Linked DNA regions of Homo sapiens. The protein of the gene in region 1 interacts with the protein of each later gene in a pairwise test. Each region holds a gene or a part of one and is shown in the gene's direction. Other genes may lie near its edges.

What was found. The genes of interacting proteins can lie anywhere in the genome.
Region 2: the proteins of DLGAP3 (region 1) and DLG2 interact in binary tests that used the Homo sapiens proteins (3 or more experiments, as listed by UniProt).
Region 3: the proteins of DLGAP3 (region 1) and MAGI2 interact in binary tests that used the Homo sapiens proteins (3 or more experiments, as listed by UniProt).

What each region holds. Positions count from the first base shown.
Region 1 is NC_000001.11:34,926,648-34,933,729, reverse strand, and holds the start of DLGAP3 (disks large-associated protein 3), read left to right. Parts: upstream 1-4,079; 5' UTR 4,080-4,279; intron 4,280-7,082. UniProt on the Homo sapiens protein: May play a role in the molecular organization of synapses and neuronal cell signaling. Could be an adapter protein linking ion channel to the subsynaptic cytoskeleton. May induce enrichment of PSD-95/SAP90 at the plasma membrane.
Region 2 is NC_000011.10:85,617,345-85,624,382, reverse strand, and holds part of DLG2 (disks large homolog 2), read left to right. Parts: intron 1-7,038. UniProt on the Homo sapiens protein: Required for perception of chronic pain through NMDA receptor signaling. Regulates surface expression of NMDA receptors in dorsal horn neurons of the spinal cord.
Region 3 is NC_000007.14:78,253,668-78,260,705, reverse strand, and holds part of MAGI2 (membrane-associated guanylate kinase, WW and PDZ domain-containing protein 2), read left to right. Parts: intron 1-4,124; coding exon 4,125-4,763; intron 4,764-7,038. UniProt on the Homo sapiens protein: Seems to act as a scaffold molecule at synaptic junctions by assembling neurotransmitter receptors and cell adhesion proteins. Plays a role in nerve growth factor (NGF)-induced recruitment of RAPGEF2 to late endosomes and neurite outgrowth.

The sequences.
Region 1 (7,082 bases):
GCCCTGAGAGATCATGAAAACTGAAGTTAAATTTCATCTGTCAGCAAATGACCCTGTATTAGTTATTAAATGCCATAATATTGCGGCATAATACCATACCATACCAAAGCTCAGTAGCTTAAATTAATAAGCATTCATTATTGCTCAAGAGTCTTCAAATTGGCTCGACAGTTCTTCTCATTCAGCTGGTCTCACTAATGTGTCTGCAGTCAGCTGTGGACAGGTAGATATCTCTGCTGCTCTTGCCTGGGCTCTCTCACATGTTTGGAGATCTGCTGGCTATAGGCGGGTCCATGATGATCTTGGCTGGGACAGTTGGGATGGTATAGCTCTCTTCCACCTTGTCACTCATCCTCCAGCTGTCTCAGGCTTGAGGCTTGTTCTTATAGTGAAGGCAGGAGACCAAGAGAAATAGTAGAAGTATTCATGTCTCTGAAGGCCTAAGCTCAGAACTGGCACTACATGACTTCTTCCAGATTCCATTGGCGAAAGCAAGTTACAAGTCCACTCAGATTTAAGGGGTGGGAAAGTAGGGTCTGCCTCTTTTTTTTTTTTTTTCTCCTCAGAGATCCTTGTTCCAAAGAGTCCACCTGTTGATGCAGGGAGTTGCAAAGTCACAGGGCAAAGGAGATGGATTCGGGTGGAGGTAGAGAATTGGTGCCCTTTTTGCAACACATCTTTCACAGCCCCCAAGGCTAAAGTTGGCTTCAGTGCTCTGCTTACTTCTCTGGTTCTGCCTTTACCTAGATTTTGGCTGGAGTGATTCTTATTTTCTTGCCAGCACATTGATACATTTAAGAATATTAAAAATGTACATAGTTATACATATATATTCTCTTCTTTATTGTGTTTTAATAAAAATATTTTATCTTTTTTTTTTTTTTTTGCTATTTATCATGCTTTCAGTGGGAAGATCAACTAAGGCAACTGTCATACTGATTGACACTGAGTCTCTGTCTTTGCACATGTGACTCTCTACCTGAAAGTCTCTCTCCCAATCTTTGAGACTCCATTCAAATGCTTCTTTTGTGCTTCTTTTTTTTTTTTTTGAGATGGAGTCTTGCTCTGTCGTCCAGGCTGGAGTGCAGTGGCGTGATCTCTGCTCACTGCAAGCTCCACCTCCTGGGTTCATGCCATTCTCCTGCCTCAGCCTCCCGAGTAGCTGGGACTACAGATGCCCGCCACCATGCCCAGCTAATTTTGTTTTTGTACTTTTAGTAGAGACGAGGTTTCACTGTGTTTGCCAGGATGGTCTCGATCTCCTGACCTCATGATCTGCCTGCCTTGGCCTCCCAAAGTGCTGGGATTACAGGCGTGAGCCACCGCGCCCAGCTTTTTGTGCTTCTTTGACTGTCCTCTTCACCTAGGCAGAGCTAGGCCCAGGGTGAGCCCCTTGTCCAAAAATTATTAACAATTTTAAGACAGTGACAGCAGAATATTCTACCAAGAGTGATGCCTTTCTACATGTGGGGCTCTGTACGACTGCACAGGTCACACTCCCATGAAGCTGGCCCTGATAGTAATTATTGGTTTACATCTCCATCTCCCTTATTAATCAGTTATTAATCACTGGATGGCTATGGGAGAACACTGTCTAAGGTAAGCCTGTCTGATTAACCTGTATGCCCCCAAGAGGCTAGCAAGGTGCCAGGTATAATCAGTAAAGGGTTGTTGAATGAACAAATGAAAATAACATTATGTTCTCAATTCTAAAATGCACCAACTCTAATAGCTTTAACAGAAAGGTAAGAAGAGCCATATTAAATGTCCCTGTTTATTGTAAGATGCTTTCCAGTTTCAGAATAGTTTACAAAATACAGGTCTTAGAACTGCGAAAACACGGTGGTGCTTTTTAACATCCTCTATCACGGCTGTTCTTTTTTTTTTTTTTTTTTTTTTTGAGACGGAGTTCCAGGCAGGAGTGCAATGGTGCAATCTCTGCTCACTGCAACCTCTGCCTCCCGGATTCAAGTGATTCGCCTGCCTCAGCCTCTGAGTAGCTGGGATTACAGGCGCCCAACACCACACCGGGCTAATTTTTGTATTTCGGGTAGAGACAGGGTTTCACCATGTTGGCCAGGCTGATCTCGAACTCCCGACCTCAGGTGATCCGTCTGCCTTAGCCTCCCAAAGTGCTGGGATTACAGGCGTGAGCCACTGTGCCCGGCCGTCAGCTCATCCTTTTTTTTTTTTTTCTTTAAGACTGAATCTGGCTCTGTTGCCCAGGCTGCAGTGTGGCACAGTCTCAGCTCACTGCAACCTGTGCCTCCCGGGTTCAAGCAATTCTCCTGCCTCAGCCTCCTGAGTAGCTGGGATTACAGGCACGTGCCACTGCACTCGGCTAATTTTTTGTAATTTTAGTAGAGACGGGATTTTACCATGTTGGCCAGGCTGGTGTTGAACTCCTGACCTCAGGTAATCCACCCGCCTTGGCCTCCCAAAGTGCTAGGATTATAAGCATGAGCCACTGCGCTCGGCCCAACGGCTGTTCTTATGCTCCACGGAAAGTGAGATGTTTCCTTCAGTTCTAAAGTGGGTTCCTGGGAACAACTTTCTTATTTTCATGACATCTGCTCTTGACTGAACCCTGGGCTGGAAATGGTCTGCAACCTCACTTCATGATTGAAGAGACAATGAACCGTTCTTGTGAGCAGCAGGGTAGGTGACCAATCTACTAGTCTCTTACCAGACTTCTAGGTATCCCTTGGGAAGAGGGCTCTCCAAGCCCCTTATGTTATTTAATGTAATGTGGCATCTTAAAACATCATCTCCCTGGGGAAAAGAGGTCTTGGCTCCCAGTTCTAGCTCTTCTGGGCCTTTGGCTTCTCCTTTCCGTGCCTCACTTTCCCCTTTATACAGGGAGGAGAGCCGGTGGCCCCACAAGGAAACAGAGAGCAGGGAGTTGTTGGGGTGCGGGGTGGGGGCCGTTGAATCAGAACAACTCCAAGGTATGTTCCTAGAGAGGTGGGCAGTCTCAAGCCTCCCAAGCCCACACCTCACCATCCCAAGCTTTCAAGACCGGAAAAGGTAGAGGAGGGAAGAGGGCTTTAAGGATGCCCACTGAACCTCCACCCCCAACTTTCAGCGCCGGAGGCAGTGTTTCCTCACACCTACCCTGGAAAGCCGGAATCCGGAGCCACCCCTTCCCCCACGTCTTCAGCCCCTCCCCCTGCGGCTTCCCCACCGTGGCCCCCTCCCCCCCATTACAGCATCGCTCTGGGCGCCAAGACGGATTCAAGCCAGGGGACTGCTGCAGTCCGCTCTCCGCCTCTCGGCTCCCGCAGCCTGTGTCCGGGCTCCGCAGCCTCCAGCTGTGCTTCGGACAGTCCCTTTCCCCCCACCCCGACCCCGCCATGGCACAATCCCAGGCTCAGGGCCCAGAGGCGGGCGGGCACAGTGGGCACGGGCGGGGGCCCAGCACAGGCGGCAGGTACAGCGGGGCTCTCCCTCCACACTGGGGATGCCTCGGCTGTGCGGACTGTGGGTGGGGGACGCCTGCCAGCGGCTCCGAGGCCGGGCACAGCGCCCCATCCTGGCAGGGGCTGGGGCCGAAGAGGGGGGCTCCCTGACCCCAAGCCAGGAGCTGAGGTCAGGCGGCCGACCGGGAAAGCCCGAAGGAGAGTCTCCTAAGCGGACGGGCCTGGGGGCTGTGTGTGACATTCAGGGCGTGACTGCCCCTCGGCGGGGGGCGAGACCCGGTCCGTGAGGCTGAGCTGGTCCCCGACCGCCCGCCCGCCGCCGGGCTTGGGTCCCTGTACCCAGGTCGGCTGTGCGTGGCCGTGACACTTCGGGTGCCTGTTCCTGGGTCCCCGGGGAGGGGGATCTCATTCCTGCCCCTACGCTGGGCGCCCCCAGCACCGTCGCTCAGCGAGGTGGGCGCTCCTCCGGGACCCCGGCGGCCGCCCGCGGGCGGCGACCTCGGCCCTCCTGGGTCCGCGCGGGGGCGGGGAGCTCGGTCCCCCTCCCTCTTCCTCTCCCTCTCCCTCTCCCTGCTCGGCTGCCCTGCGCGGGGGCGGGGGCGGGGGCGGAGCGCGCGGGCGGGATCCCCCCGCCTCCCCTTCCCGGTCCCCGGGAAATCCAGCCTCCGTGGCTTGGCCGCCTCCCGCTCCCGCGCCCGCTGCCGCTCGGCGCTCGCTTGGGGCTCCGCAGCCGGCGCGGCCCCTCAGCTGGGGGCTCCGCAGTGCCGGGCCCCGGTCCCTGCCCGCCTGCCCAACGCCGCAGCGCCCCCGGCCCGGGCCGCCGGCACCATGTAACCCGGCCGGAGCCCGAGCCGGGCCAGGTAAGCCGCGGGGAGGAGTGGGGACGGGGCCGCGCTCGCGGCTCCCTCTGCAGCGCCCCCCAGGCACGGCCCGGCTGCGGCCCCGGCGCCGCCCACGCCCCGGGCTCCGGCGCTCGGCTCCCGGCCCCGGGAGGGGGGAGGGGCTGGGCCTCCTCAGCTGCCCCCGCTCCTGCCCCGGCCTGGCTGCCCGCGGGCCCGACCCGAGGGGCGGGCAGGGGACCACGCGGACCGCGGACCCACGCTCCCGGTCAGGGCCGCGGGGACAGGCCAGCCCCGGCCCAGCCCTCGCCCGGCTGGAGGCTCGGGTCTGGGAGGGAGTAGCCAGCTGGTTGTGGGGGAAGTCGTGGTGCTGGGGAGATCCGGAGAGAAGTTTCCTCTGCAGGTGTGTGAATGTGAGTGCGTGTCGCTGTGTGTCTGTGCCGAGTGTGTCACTGTGTGGGTCTGTGGGCGATTGTGTGTGCCGGTGAGTGTATGCCGTGAGTGTGTGCGTGTGTCACTGTGGGCGAGAGTGTGTGTGCATGTTAGTGGGTGTATGCAGCGTGAGTGTGGAGGGTGGTACTGTGTATGCATCTGTGGACATGTGAGTGAATGAGTGTGTGTTGTCCCCATGTGTGCCTGTGTGTGTCTGTGAGTGTGTGAATGGATGTGTGTGCCGGCGTGACTGTCTCTGTGAGTGGGTCCCGGTATCTGCCCTGTGTGACTGTGTGTGTGTGTGTGTGCGTGTGCGCGCGCGTGCGTTGGCTGTGTGAGAGAGAGTGTATCTGAGCGCGGTTCACTCTGAATCACCCACACCTGGGCTCTGTCCCCCCCACTGTCCCCCCATTCCTGGTGGGATATGGGACAGGGAGATGAGACTTTTCCGAGGTCAGATCATTCCCCACTTCTCTGGGGACCCCTGACCCTTGATTCAGGCAAGAGCTTTGTGGCACTCCCCAGCTTGGTCTCTACCTTCACCTACCTCAGGGGGTGCCCTCTGGGATGTTGCTGGTCGTGTCCTTCCTGCATGCTAAGGCCCCTGGTGGGTGGGAGGGGGGATCTGGGGCGAGCTGGAGTATGTGCCTGCGTGTGCTGCTTCTCCTTTTGGGGGCCTGGGAACTTGTGTCATCTCAATAATGTTTCACCAAGGGCCTTTTAGAGCTAGGAGATGAGGAGGCCAGGTGGAAGCGTCTGCCCTGTTAGTCATCAGAGCAGGTGGCGCTCTCCCAGACTTCCAAGTCCCAAACCTTCAAGTTCTGGGTTATTGGTTCAGTCCACTGGCTCCGGGTGGGTCTGTACTAAGCTCTTTGAAGTAATAATAATAAAATAATGCCCTCATATTAGTTCAGGGCTTTTGAAAATGCTGCCCTCTGAACTCTTCTTATTTCCCCAACAGCCTTGGGAAGCAGGCAGGACAGGTATCACGTTAAGCCATATGCAACTGCAATATTCAACTGTTTTTATTTAACCTACAAAAACAGCAATTTCATATGGTTCAACCAAATATAATGCCGATTTACAGATGAAGATGTTGAGGCTTGAGAAATGAATTGCATTTTCCACAACCACACACTGCTAGTTAGTGGTACAGAAAGACCTCAGCCCAGGTCTTTCAGTGACCCAAAGAACTGGGCTGGGCCAAGGTTAGAGAGTGGTACTTCCTGGTGTGCTCTCTCTGACCCTGGGGGCACTGCCCTCTACCACTGCGCAGCATTCCCTGAATGCTGGGGCTACTTCTGCACCCAGCTGCCAATGCCTAAAAGAGTGGGGGGTGGGGGGAGAAGAGAGGAGGGAGGGGAGGGAGAGGCTTCGTGAGTTGGCAGTGAATCAGGGTCTAAAAAGGGAGCTGGGAGGGCTAGGGTGGCAGGTGTTTCTAAAAGGAACATGAACATAGGATGAACGGCCTCACATACAGCCCCCGCATCTCCCACCCGCCACTGCCCCACTGATCTGGCAGGCAGGGCCCGCTGAGTTTTGTGCCAGGGGGCTCACATCCAACGAGTGAGCTTGTATGTAGCTGTAGAATGATGGCCAGGAGAGGAACCTTAGTATTGACTTGGTCCAACCTCTTCATTACAAACCGGGGACTCTGAAGCCCCAAGAAGGGAGGGGACTTGCCCAAGGTCACACAACGAATTTGTGAGTTCCTAGGCTAATCTTAGACGAGGAACTTTGCAATCCTCCATGTTGCCTTCTATTCCTGAACTCTCCCCACCCCCATCAGAGCTGAGTACAGGGGATTTTTGGAAAAGAAATGAAGACTCAAAAAGCCTAAGGCTGTACATCTTTCAGCTTGGGACTCCTTGCCAAAGAGAGGGCGCTACAGATGTCGCTGGGGATAGGGATTCCTAGCCACACCCACCACCGAGGTAGGCCATGGGCTTGTCTTGTCTTGATTCCTGCTGGTGAGGGGCTGGAGCTGCTACAGGCCAGACTCCCAGACTTTCTCATGTTAGTACCTGCTTTCAGCGGCTGCCTGACACCTAACATCATCTCTTCCAGCTGATGTTGGGGCTCGAGCTGGCTAAGCTTGTTTTCCTTCATCCTCCCCAGTTTCCAGTGCATTTTGCCTCTAGCTGGATAGACCATTCCTTACCTTATTGGGTTCCTAATGAATAGAGAAACTTCTGGGGCTTGTCTGATTTAGGAAGGGTCTGTAGTTACCCCCAAACCCTTTCTAATGAAATCTTCCAGGAGTCTAGGACAAATGATAAAGGGATTACCCCCATTTTACAGGTGGGGAGACTGAAATTCAGCAAGGGGCCCCGTATTTGGTTGTTTTTTAGTTTTTTGGGGGTGAGGTGATGAAGGGAGCAAATGATGACAA
Region 2 (7,038 bases), on another chromosome or scaffold:
AAATTTTCATAAGATGGATTTTCATTTGGTATTTAGTTAGTATATTTTTGTCAAAGAGAGAGGAGATTCTTTTACTGATACCATGCAACCATGGTGGGAATTGGGAATGGGTGTGACATCTCACTAAGCCCATTTCTAGGTGCCATTCTGGACTGCCCTTGGATAAGCTGAAACTACTGTGCCTCAAACCCCATATTAACTGCTCGTTTGCTTTATGACATTACTTTCTACTTCTCTCACTCTAGTCTCTTCGCATTTTTACAGATCTCAGTTTTATCAACAGAAGACTCTTCTGTTTCCTCATAGAAGGTTTTTTTTCCTCAGCAGTTGCTTTTCATTCAAGATTTTCTTATCTATAGTAGTAACTTTATTTGCTCCCAGGTGAGCCCTTGGGACAATCTTGGACATATTTTAATTTGTGAAAATTTAGGACCAATTCAGGATAAGTTGTATTAGTATTCTCTGATATGATGCAAGACCATAGTGTGTTATAAGGGTCTGTTTTAACAAGTCTTCTTGAATTGATCTGATATGATTTCCTACTGTGTTAACATAAGAAATAAAAGTTAATGATAGGTACGTCATTTGCCATGTTTTACAGCAGAAAGTTGCTGTTTTAAAGATAAAAATATGCTTTAACAGAATTTTCTAGTACAATGCAGCTTCTTTTTTGAATGGCTTTTTGTTCTCATTGTCATTAAATATGTGGAAGAAATCAATGCCTTTATTACTTTGAGATAAATGTTCATTTCATTTCAGTGTTTTAAAAAATTGTCCTATTGCCAGGCGCGGTGGCTCACGCCTGTAATCCCAGCACTTTGGGAGGCCGAGGCGGGCGGATCATGAGGTCAGGAGTTCAAGACCAGCCTGGCCAACGTGGTGAAACCCCATCTCTACTAAAAATACAAAAATTAGCTGGGCATAGTGGTGCGTGCCTGTAATCCCAGCTACTTGGGAGGCTGACGCAGGAGAATTGCTTGAACCCAGGAGGTGGAGGTTGCAGTGAGGTAAGACTGTGCCGCTGCACTCCAACTTGGCGACAGAGAGAGACTTCGTCTCAAAAAAAAAAAAATTGTCCTATTGTCTTCGGAGCTTCTTTTAAACTGGTGTAGAAGTTTGTCTGAAATTATTTATTTATATGACCCTTTATTTCCTTTGAATTATTTTTTTGCAGTGGTTCTCAGTGATATAATATATATATAAACATTTTTATCATGTACTGAAAGCTAAGTCCTATCTTTTTTATATGTATATGTTTTGACATTATAGCTTTCAAAGGAAGCTGAAGAATGTTATATAATTGGAATCTTTTTTTTTTTTTTTGGGAGACAGAGTCTTGCTCTGTAGCCCAGGTGGGAGTGCAGTAGTGTGATCTCGGCTCACTGGAACCTCCGCCTCCGGGGTTCGTGCAATTCTCTTGACTCAGCTTTCTGAGTAGCTGGGATTACAGGTGCGTGCCACCACACCTGGCTAATTTTTGTATTTTTAGTAGAAACAGGGTTTCACCATGTTGGCCAGGCTGATCTCGAACTCCTGACCTCGTTATCCACCCACCTTGGCCTCCCAAAGTGCTGGGATTACAGGCATGAGCCAGTGCGCCTGGCCTTAGAATCTTAAGACATGATATTGCCATATATCTCATAGGCACCCTTGAAACTGAGATTACAGTTTCCTGGACTCACAGTTCTTAAATTATCTCTTTGCTTTTGGTTGACTGTATACTTCATAAAAGTGTCATTTCTTTTTTTTTTTTTTCCTCTGGGGAAGAGGACCTTATGACTCTCCTGCTTATTTTTTCCCTATTCAAAGTTTTCTTCTTTTGTTGTTTCCTGCACATTATGGCTCCACTTCTTGTTTTATAGTATCTTACTAATTTACATTTGCTTTTTGTTATCGGGTATACTCTGTTTTCATCTCTAGTTTTTCTTAAGTTCTTAAAATCATTTTTTTTTCAGAATCAATAAGAGGGGGAATATGTACAGGTATATCTCAGAGATATTGCGGGTTAGGTTCCAGACCACTGAAATAAGGCCTATTATCACAATGAAGCAAGCTACACAAATATTCTGGTTTTCTGATGCATATATACAATATATTGTATACTACGGTATATATGCACTGGGAAACCAAAATATTTGTTGTATACAGTACAGTATATACTATACTATAGTCCATTAGGTTTGCGATCGTATTATGTCTAAAAACAATGTACGTACTTTAAGTAAAAATGCTTTACAACTAAAAAATGCTAATGATCATATGAGCCTTTAGCGAGTAGTAATCTTTTTGCTGGTGGAAGATCTTGCTTCGTTGTTGATGGCTGCTAACTGATCAGGGTGATGATTGCTGAAGGTTGGGATGTCTAAGGCAATTTGTTAAAATAGGACAACAATGAAGTTTGCCACATCAATTGACTCTTTATTTTATGAGAGATTTCTCTGTAGCATGAGATGCTGTTTGACAGCATTTTACCCACAGTACAACTTCTTTCAAAATTGGAATTGGTTTTCTCAAACCCTGCTGCTGCTTTATCAACTAAGTGTATGTAATATTCTAAACCCTTTGTTGCCATTTCAAACAATGTTCACAACATCTTCACTGGAAGTAGATTTCATCTGAAGAAACCACTTTCTTTGCTCATCCATAAGAAGCAACTCCTCATTCATTCCAGTTTTATCATGAGATTGCAGCAATTCAGTCACATCTTCAGGCTTCACTTCTAGTTCTAGATCTCTTGCTATTTCCATTCCATCTGAAGTTACTTCTTCCACTGAAGACTTGAATCCCTCAAAGTCATCCATGAAAGTTGGAATGAATGTCTTCCAAACTCCCGTTAATGTTGATATTTTGACCTCCTCCTGTGAATCAAGAATGTTCTTAATGGCATATAGAATGATGAGTTCTTTCCAGGAGGTTTTCAATTTACTTTGGCCAGATCTATCAGGGAATCACTGTGGCAGATATAGTCTTACAAAATTTATTTCTTAAATAATAAGGCTTGAAAGTTGAAGTTACTCCTTCATCTGTGGCCTGCAGAATGGATGTACTATTAGCAGGCATGAAAACAACTTTAATCTCCTTGTATATGTTCATTGGAGCTCTTGGGTGACTAGGTGCATTGTCAATGAGTAGTAATATTTGGAAAGGAATCTTTTTTTTTTTTTTCTGAGTAGTAGTTCTCAACAGTGAGCTTAAAATATTCAGTAAACCATGCTGTAAACGGATGTGCTGTCACCCAGGCTTTTGTTGACCTACTTTTAGAGCATGGACAGAATAGATTTAGCATAATTCTTAAAGACCCTAGGATTTTTGGAAGGGTAAATGAGCATTGGCTTCAACGTAAAGTCACCAGCTACATTCACCCATTAGCCTCTAAGAAGCGTCAGCCTGTCCTTTGAAACTTTGAAATGAGGCATTGATTTCTCTCTAGCATTTTCTTCTGATGTAAGGCTATTTTGTCTGAATTGAAAATCTGTTGTTTAGCCATTTTCATCAATTATCTCAGCTAGATCTTCTTGATAACTTGCTGTAGCTTCTTCATCAGCACTTGCTGCTTCACCTTGCACTTTTATGTTGTAAAGATGACTTCTTTCCTTTCACCTCATGAACCAACCTTTGCTGGCTTCCAGCTTTCTTCTGTGGCTTCCTCACCTCTCTCAGCCTATATAGAATTGAAGAGAGTTAGGGCCTTGCTCTGGATTAGACTTTGGTTTGAGGGGAATTACAGCTGGTTTGATCTTCTGTTCAGATCACTAAAACTTTCCCTATATCAACAGTAAGCGTGTCTCTCTTATTATTCGTGTGTTCACTGAAGTGGCCCTTTTAATTTCCTTCAAGAGTTTTTCCTTTGCATTCACAACTTGGCTATTTGGTGCAAGAGGGCTGCCTAGCTTTTGGCTTATCTCAGCTTTCAACATAACTTCCTCACTAAGCTTAATCATTTTCTAGCTTTGAGTGTGAGAAATGTGTAACGTTTCCTTTCACTTGAACACTGAGAGGCCATGGTAGAGTTATTAATTGGCCTAACTTTAATATTGTTGTGTCTCCAGGAATAGGGGGACCTGAGGAGAGGGAGAGAGATGGGGCAATGACCAGTTGGTAGAGGAGTCAGATAACACACAACATTTACAGATTAAGTTTGCTGTCTTATGTGGGTATGATTTGTGGCGCCCCAAAACAATTACAATGAACATCAAAGATCACTGATTACAGATCACTGTAACAAATAAAAGACTAATGAAAAAGTTTGAAATATTGTGAGAATTACCAAAATGTGACGCAGAGACATGAAGTGAATATATCCTGTGGAAAATTGCCAGTGATAGACTTGTTTGACACAGGGTTGTCACAAACTTAATTTGTGAAAAACGTGTTGTCTGCAAAGTGCAGTAAAGCAAAGTGCAATAAAATGAGCTATGCCTGTACCTGACTTCATTGAGTGGCCTTGTGTGGTTATTTTATTCCTTTTGCAAGCATTTTACCAAATTTGTATTTGAATTTTCATGTTTGCCATACCAGTAATATATGGAGAGCTTGTCTTTTTTTTTTTGAGACGGAGTTTTGCTCTGTTGCCCAGGCTGGAGTGCAGTTGCGCAATCTCGGTTCACTGCAACCTCCACCTCCTGGGTTCAGGCGATTCTCCTGGCTCAGCCTGCCGAGTAGCTGGGATTACAGGCGCCTGCCACTGTGCCTGGCTAATTTTTTCATTTTTGGAAGAGAGGGGATTTCACCATGTTGGGCAGGCTGACCTCAAACTCCTGACCTCAGGTGATTCATCTGCCTCCACCTCTGAAAGTGCTGGGATTACAGGCATGAGCCACTGCATATGGCTGCACATGTTTTTTCTGTTTTCCAAAACTTCAAGTTTTTTTTTTAATCTCTTCACAGCCATAAAACTCAAAAGAATTAAGCACTGAATCATCCTAGAGAAAGATGGGAAAACACAGTTTTCAAACTTTTGCATTTTCTGTAAGTCAAAGTAAAATAGACAATTTACTAAAGTTTTTTTTTTTAATTTAAAATTCCCCAATTAAAAAAATTAGCTGGGCTTGTTGGCATGTGCCTATAGTCCCAGTTACTTGGGAGGCTGAGACTGGAGGATTGCCTGAGCCCAGGAGTTTGAGACTGCAGTGAGCTGTGATTGTGCCACTGAACTCCAGCCTGGGTATCCCATATCTTTTTTATTTTAAAAGAAATTCCCCGTAGGGACAATTTTGACCTTGGATAAGCTATAGACTCTTGATATTGTAAAATATTAATTAATCCAGGAGGCATAAATAGAATGAATTCCAGAATGAGAAATAGAAGAATACTTTTTGTGTTTAACTACTGATTAGGAGTTTGCTATGAAGCAACTTAGTGAGGAAGACGTAGAGATAAAATGATCTGTTAATTGATTTTATTTTACATATCTATTGGGAGAGTACAAAGCATATGCTAATGACTTGATACTAGAAAATGTGTGAACTTCTGGGTTTTTGGAAATCTGCTCAAGTGTTTTTATTTATGATAGAATATTTGATTTCTCCCTTAGGCCTATTATTGTTTACTTTTGTGGGTAGAAGAATCTAGTCAGTGAGGTATGCACAAAACATTGGATTTTACTTATTTATTTTTAAAAAACTTCAACTTTTTCTTAGATTCAGTGAGTACATGTGCTGATTTGTTACATGAGTATATTGTGTGATGCTGAGGTTTTGGATATGAATGATTCTGTCACCTAGGTATTGAGCATAGTACTCAATAGGTGGTTTTTTAGCCCTTGCCCCACTAGTCCCTTGCGTAGTGTCTATTGTTCCTGTCTTTATGTCCATGTATACCCAATTCTTAGTTCCCACTTGTAAGAACATGCGGTATTTTGTTTTCTGTTTCTGTGTTAATTTGCCTGGGATAAACATTGGGTTTTTAAAATGTTGGATTAAGGCATTCTGTTCATTCATGCCTTTGTCAATAAGTAAATTTCTCACTGTTCTGTAAAATACATTTACTGAACTATACGAATACTATACTTTCTTAAATATATATTCTCCTTATATGCTTATTTCTTAATACTATGTTACCATGTCAGTGATTACAAAATATTTTTTAGTATAAGGGAGAGATTTTTTTTTTGATTGGGATAAGGGAATGTGTTCTCCAGCTACAATTCTTGCCCAGGAATTTATGGCAGTCAAGACACAAGTATTTCTATATCCTCAATGTAGGTTGCTTTGTCAGCAAAGGATCATGAGTTTTATCCAGTCTCTTCTGTCCAGTTAGTCATTCTGAATTCCAACTAATAAGCTTTCCGCATGGGTTCAATTTTTAGTAAGTTTTCAAAGCTATTTCAAGAATTATGGCCAAATCACCTTCATTATGAAACGATTCTCCTGACCTCCTTTATTTTAGGATTTAAGATCAAGAGGAATGGTATAGTATAATAAAGTAGAAAATCCTGTGAAAATGAATTATTAAATTTAAACTTTCAAAGATTATGGGTAAGATTTTTGTAACCCATTTCTTCTGGTAACACCATTTTGCTAGCCACTGAGGCCCTAATTTAGGATACAATTTTGAAGCTTCTATCAGGGGCTTATCATTTTGAAGGACTGTGACATCTTTATCATTAAAAGCATGGTAATACTTGGAATAAACCTATTAAGTTCTGTTCTATTTAAACATCTCTCATAGGTAATAAACAAGCTAAAATTCTTTTAAAAGGTAAACTGGTGTATATATGGTGTAAACTGGTGTATATATTTAAGGCAATGACTCTACTTTCATTTATTTATTCAATCATTTATCCATTCAACAAAGGTGTATTATGAGTGCCTGCTATGTGCCAGGCATAGTGCCAGATGCATGTTTGAAGTAGCAAATGATATTCAATCTCTGCCTGTATGAATCTTAAAATATATTAGGAAGACAGATGCAAAAACAGGCAATTTCAATGCTGTGTGGTGAGGTTAACGCTCTTTGTCAAGAAAACAGACAAGGAACACTCAATCCCACTAGGGAAGATGTAATATTTAAGATGAGATACAGAAGATGAATAGAAGT
Region 3 (7,038 bases), on another chromosome or scaffold:
CCTGAGGTCAGTAGCCCTAGAACTAACCTAAATATGGCCTGAAGTGAATGACCATTTAGCAAACAAAGTAAATTTTCCAGCAATGTAGTAATGAAAATATATGCTTAGCTTTCAAAAGAAATGTATCTTCTTATTTTTATGGAGAAAAAATTTGATAAAATTATAAGTATTTTCACAAGGATGATCTCATTTTCACAGTAGCTCTGCAAAAGAGGAAATGTAAGAGATATTTTTATTCCCATTTTATAAAAGAAGAAATTGAGAGATGGGGAGATCAAGTGACTCTTCCAATTCTCCGTCTTAAGTAGGCCAACAGGTTAGAGCCAGAGCCAGTCTTCCTGATGATGTCCCTTTCTGTGCTCTTAAACCCAATCTGTCTGAGGACTTGGCATGGCACCGTCAGATGACATATACCAGGTGTCTTATATTTTTATTTCACGACATGTAAATGACATTCATACAGCACAGTCTATTAATATTCTATCCAATAAGTTCTATCTGAACAAGCAAATGTTTGCTGACATCCCCGTCTATAAGAGTTTTGGGCATGACTTATTATCTAGACATCTATATATTTTTTTAAAGTGGGCAGTTGAGTACCATCAAGTTGTTATATAGTTTTATCCTGTGATAACTGACCACTCATCTTTTACATTCAGAAATCTTCTACGTATCTTCATAAAGATATTGTTGCAGTGTTCTTTATCCTTGCCTGATGACTTGAAAAATTGCTGTTAGTGGAAAATATCCATAAATTGTAAAAGGCAGTCTTACTAAGAAACACAAATAGTTCTCACTCTGTTTCTAAATAGCAAGATCACATTAAAACTCAAAAATAGGTAACATTAATCACTACAATTCAAACTACTACTCTCTAGACCTGGCAGGGAAACTTGAGAGCTTTCAACATAACCCTTAGTTCTTTCCCGTGAAATTCTGGCAGAGCAGAGGGAAGGAGAGAGCGTGCTTGGGGACTGGGGAGTCTGTTAACAGTGATTAAAGTTAGGGAGAGCCTTAGAGGAAGTGGCATTTGTTACCTCTCTGACTTTTACTTGGCCATTCAGAAACCCATTGTTTCCACAATCATACTCAAGTCATCCTTGACTGTAACTGTGGTGGGAATATCTGGGTAGAACTGTCCTGATTTTATAGAAGAATATAACAAAGGACAAAGAGTAATTACTGAAATAGCAATCATCTTTTGCATAACAATTTACAGCTTAGAAACCCTTTCACCTGTATGATCTCATTCGTTATTTCCCATGGAACAATAAGTTGCTATTACTATTGTTCATCATTACTTCTAAAAAATCTGAGTCACAGAGGATTGAAGCCAGTTTGGGAAAGTTATACAGCTAATAAGTGATGAAACTAGAACTCAGACCAAAGTCTTTTGACCTCATATCCCATGTGATCTCTACTATACCTTGCAGCCTCCTGAACCTAAGAAGAATGTTGGAGCAAGAATGAAAGTAGACATAAAAAATAGTCAATGAGTTAAAAAAAACTCACTGAATAGGAAATTGAGGAAATGAGGCATACCCAAGAGAAAATCCAAAAGGCCAATAAACATGAAAAGATGCTCACCTTCACTGGCAGTCTGGGAAATGCAAATCAAAACTATGATCACATCCATTAGATTGGTAAAAATTAAGTCTGAGAATACGAAGTACTGTGTCAGATGTAAAGCAATGAAAATTTCAACACACTACCGATCAGAGTGTAAATCAATGTGACCTCTTTTGTCAGCCATTTGCCACTATCTAACAAAGTTGAAGATGCACATGGTCTGTGCCAGCATGGGGTTCATAGCAGAGTTATTTTCAATAGCCACAGATTTGTCATAACTCCGGTGTCCATTAACAAAAGAATGGATGAATGTTATTAAGTAGTAATATAGCCATCACTAAATACTGTATTACAATGAAAACTAATCAACTAGAGGCACAAGTATCAAAATAGATAAATATCACAAACATATTTTAAGAAAAGTTACAGAATATTAAAATATATACCATTTACAAAAGGCTTAAAATATGTAAAATACTTTCCAGGGATTATTATTATTTAGAGATTAGATACTATTTAGAGATATTGTTTTTACGGACACCTAGATATGATATAAATTATAAAGGTATATGTAAATAACAAACCTCAAATAGGGCAATGGTTACCTTGGAAAGGGCTGTAAAGGAGTGCAAGTTGGGGGAGAGGTGCTAGCCAAGGGGGATTCAACTAATATGAGCAATGTTCCAATCATTAAGTTGGATGTTAGTATACAAGTATTTGTTGTTCTTTCAACCTTTTAAATGTAGAAAATATAACATTAAAACTAAAAGAAACAGGAGAGAAAAATAGTCTATCTGAATCAGACACTTCTCTGGGACACTGAGATGAATGGAATCAATTAAAAACGATTCCCAAAGCATCCCCAGCTGCCACAGTCTGAAGAGGAATTATAATAACAGTGAGGGAATGTCCACTCCAATTCAGTTCTGAGCCGTGGACCCACGTTCCAGCCACCACATCAGTACCCTCTCTGATAGACATTATGGAAAAGTGAAGTTCCATCTGACCAATCACATAGGTTGTGACATTTTCTAGAGGCAGACCTAACCTGGATCCCTGAAAATGTCTGCTTGGCCTCTCTGTCAATTTGGGAAGAGGGACTGTTAATTAAGACAATGCTGTTAATTGTTTTATTCATTTTATGTTATACACCTACAAAAGACCAGAAAAGTTGTCAACTCTAAAAGTTCAACTCTGTTTTTCATTTTTAACGTTTGCAAGCTTGCTGGGCAAGGATGTCTCAGAATGAAATCCCTAGCCATTTGTACCTCCCATTCCAGAATTATTCTGATAAACTGATGTCTGTTGAGTTGCTTATTTCAAGATCTGTGAAAACATGTCTCTTCATCCCTAATATACTCCTCAGCATAGTCAGGCACAATCTCAATTTGCAAGCTCAATTTTCAAGTATTATGGTTTGTGAAGATAAAAATACCAATCCATGATAAAATAGTTCTCCAAAAATAAAATTGTTATTCATACATAATTGAAATTTTTAAAAAAACATTTATCTCAAACAGCCATGATTTTCTGCATTTTAAGCAGGAAAAAATATTTCTCTGAATATATTTTATAATGGATAATTTGCATTCAGAGCATTTCTAATCATAAAGTTAGCCTCTAACCAGTAGACCTCTGAAAATCTGTGATAGTTCACTGGGGAGAAAGGACAAGTGCCTTTATTGAAACTGATCCACAGAAATATTAGTTTATCTAAGATCAGAGGATGAACTGTGGCAACTTTCTGTTTGAAACCAAGGGACCCAAATCTCCTCCATCCTATTTTAACAACAATCATATTAATAATAGTCCACATTTATTGAGCACTGTGTGTCATACACTATGCCAAGTACTTTTCCTACATTATGTCATTTCATTCTCACAACTTTACAAATGAGGAACTGTGGCTCAAAGCAGGGAACTTGGTCAATATCATGTATCTGTTAAATAGTAGAGCCAAGGTGTCAACCCAGCTCCCTAATCCCAAAACCTGCACCCTTGACCTTTGCTCGCATATACATGGAAGCTTTGTAATTACCTGCTATAGATGGAAAAAAATAAATGGGCAAATATTTTTCTGTTCCATAAAAAAGAAAAAAGGCAATTGACTTATTCAACTTATACAAAAAAAAATATGCTAGGGCTTTGTTTTTCGTCTAAAACTCATGACCACTACTTCTCAATAGTTCGAAAATTATATTAACTGAATTACACTGAAGATGGAATATAAGATGAAAAAGAAGCATAGAGAATGTGCTTCTTCAAGGTACACATTCCTCTAACCTTTTCTTTCAGAGCCTTTGTTTCTGAATATGAAGTTGTTTCTGAACTTCAAGAATAACCAAATAGCTTTTTTTCAGCACTTCATCATTGTATTTGCTGGCAGTCCTGTTGTAACCTTGAGTCACCCACAGTGATTTTAAGTATTATTCTAATTGATTTCTCACTGCTTACTAAGAAACAACACCTCTCACTAGTCTCGTAAATAATTCCATTTCTCTATGTCAATGTTAATTGAACTTACCTCATGTTGTCAATCTCTTTTTTTCTTACAGGTGATGTCATTGTCTATATTAATGAAGTTTGTGTCCTTGGACACACTCATGCAGATGTTGTCAAACTTTTCCAGTCTGTTCCTATTGGTCAGAGTGTCAACCTGGTGTTGTGTCGTGGCTACCCTTTGCCCTTTGATCCTGAAGACCCTGCTAACAGCATGGTGCCACCCCTTGCAATAATGGAGAGGCCACCTCCAGTGATGGTCAATGGAAGACACAACTATGAAACATATTTGGAGTACATTTCTCGGACCTCACAGTCAGTTCCAGATATAACAGATCGGCCGCCTCATTCTCTGCACTCCATGCCAACTGATGGTCAGCTAGACGGCACGTATCCACCGCCCGTCCATGATGACAATGTGTCTATGGCTTCATCTGGGGCCACCCAAGCTGAACTTATGACCTTAACCATTGTGAAAGGTGCCCAGGGCTTCGGCTTCACTATTGCCGACAGTCCTACAGGACAGCGGGTGAAACAAATACTTGACATTCAGGGATGCCCTGGCCTGTGTGAAGGCGACCTCATTGTTGAGATCAACCAGCAGAATGTACAGAACCTGAGCCATACAGAAGTAGTGGATATACTTAAGGACTGTCCCATTGGAAGTGAAACTTCTTTGATTATCCATCGAGGAGGTAAGACAAACACTGGCTCAGCAATAAAATATGTGGGTAAAATAGTAGGATCATTTAATAATATTGTTAAAATGCAGATTTCCTTGGAGTTGAATGAAATTATACTTTAAAAAATAAAGCTTAAAGAGTGAGAGAGAAAAACATGAATTAAAGGAAACTTTGTTTTTGAATTCAGAATATGTCTTTTTCTATTTTGTATTAAACACAATAATAATAGTTCTTTCAGTCTTACAGACATATTGATAGAAAGTTGGAGGGTAAAGATTAAATCCCCAACTATGAATGTATTTTGTTTCAAAAATTCATTCATGTATCGGTCATGGAGAACTCAAACTGGTTTCCCATTGATTTAATTAAGAAACCTGCTTTTACGATGGAAGCAACGCTTTTAATCGTGCTTAGGTTTCCAGGCTAGCAGGTGGAAGCCAGTTCAACCCCTACTAAGCCCAAGCACAGTCTTGACAATACTCAGAAGGACCATGAACTGTGAGAGCTGTGGGAGCTGTGCTGCTGTAGAAAAATCTTTTCACAGTTTGGAATGATGCTGTTCAGGACACTTCTGCTACTACAGGAACTGCACTAGCAACAATTACCCATAGTGCCTCCCATGATCTGGGAAGAAAGTTACAGAACAGGGTGAGGGCTGAAGTTCTGGCCTGAGTGTCCCGGGCAAAGTATGGAAATAGGAACAGTGCCAAGTGTGGTAGAAGCTCTGAGCCCTGAATGTTTCTTCCCCTCTACCTTTTCTGTGGGGAAGGGAATGGGGTAAAGCACAGGGCCCCTTCTCCACACCTCTGCTGCTTTGCTCTGGATGACCAGTGAACCTAGAGAGAGAAGGGAGGGAAGGGGCCATAGATAAAGAGGATACTATCTCGAAAAAAGAGTGTAAAGGAAAAGGATCAGGCTAAGCCCTGGTTTTCCCATTTGCCAATTTGTGGACTTAGGACACTGAAAGTCAATGAGCCTCAGCCATGTCATCTGTTACAATGGGATAATACTACTACCTAACCCAGTGGTAGTGTTGTAGCCCAACATCTGCTCACTAAATGTCTGGCGAGTGTAAACATCGAAGCTTCAGCATGGGTGGGTCAGAAGGAACAGGACAATGAGGAACTCATGCATGAAGGACACACGTGTGACAAACATGTGGTTGCCTATTCAAAGCACTCAAAACAGCCTGAAACTCTCAGTTTGAAATGCAAGTGAAGGCTGTCAAAGCTGAAAGAAAGAAGCACCTTTTATGATTTATTTGGCCCTGTCTGCAGGTGTTTTTCCTTCAAGGAAGTATCACATTGTTGATTCCTTGTTTGGAAACGGACAGCAAACACCAGGCATTTGTGAGCAGCACTCTACAAAGTCTTAGGTTCCCGGTACTAAAAGGGAAATTCATATGATAGCCAAACAATCTTAAATTTGACCTTCTCAAGGCATTGTTACAAAATAGCACTTGAATTCTCATAATTAAATGTTGGCAAGGTATTTTAATTTCTTGCATTGCTTAAGATTAAAATAAACATTGCTAATTAAATAGCCATATCTTCATAGTGTCCAAATGAAAATCAAATATTTGGACCAAGTTCTTGATATTAAATGGTATCACAAACTCACTGTGCAGTATCCACTGTATGATTCATAGAAACAAATTTGGATGCATTTTTTATATACAGCTTCTTCTAAAAGCATGACATAGCAGAAAAAAGGTACTTTGAAATCCCTAATTTACATTATGGTAATTTGTACTTTTCTGAAAATATTCGTTGTGTGCCTGCTATCAGCTTGGCTACCCCATTCTCACTTTTCCTTTGCCCCCCATTTACTCCACAAGTAATCAAAGTGGTCTTTGCATTTGGTTTGTGTTTGGGGATGAGGGAATTGGTTTTTGTTTTTTGCCTAGCATAGCAAAATGCAGAATGCTGTGATGCTTAAAGTACTTCTAGTCGAAAACCTCTTGAGTTTACCCTAATTCCCACAATTTATACTCATCTCTCTGAAATTAATAGGAACTAGCACCATGCTTATGTGGTGAAATTCACTTTATCTTATTATGGGCTACCAGAAGTGCCTATGACCTCTTTGAGATAAGCAGACTCAAGAGCTGAGTCGCAGGCCTGGGTCCTTATATCAGGACCATGGGTGGTCGGCTGTTTTTAATTATTTACTAGAGTTTTTAATTTATAAAGTAATAATGTACATGGTTTAACTTTTTTAAAGCAAATAATGTCAACAAGTATAAAATGAAAGTAATTGTCTGTCCTATCCCAGACTTTCAGTCCTT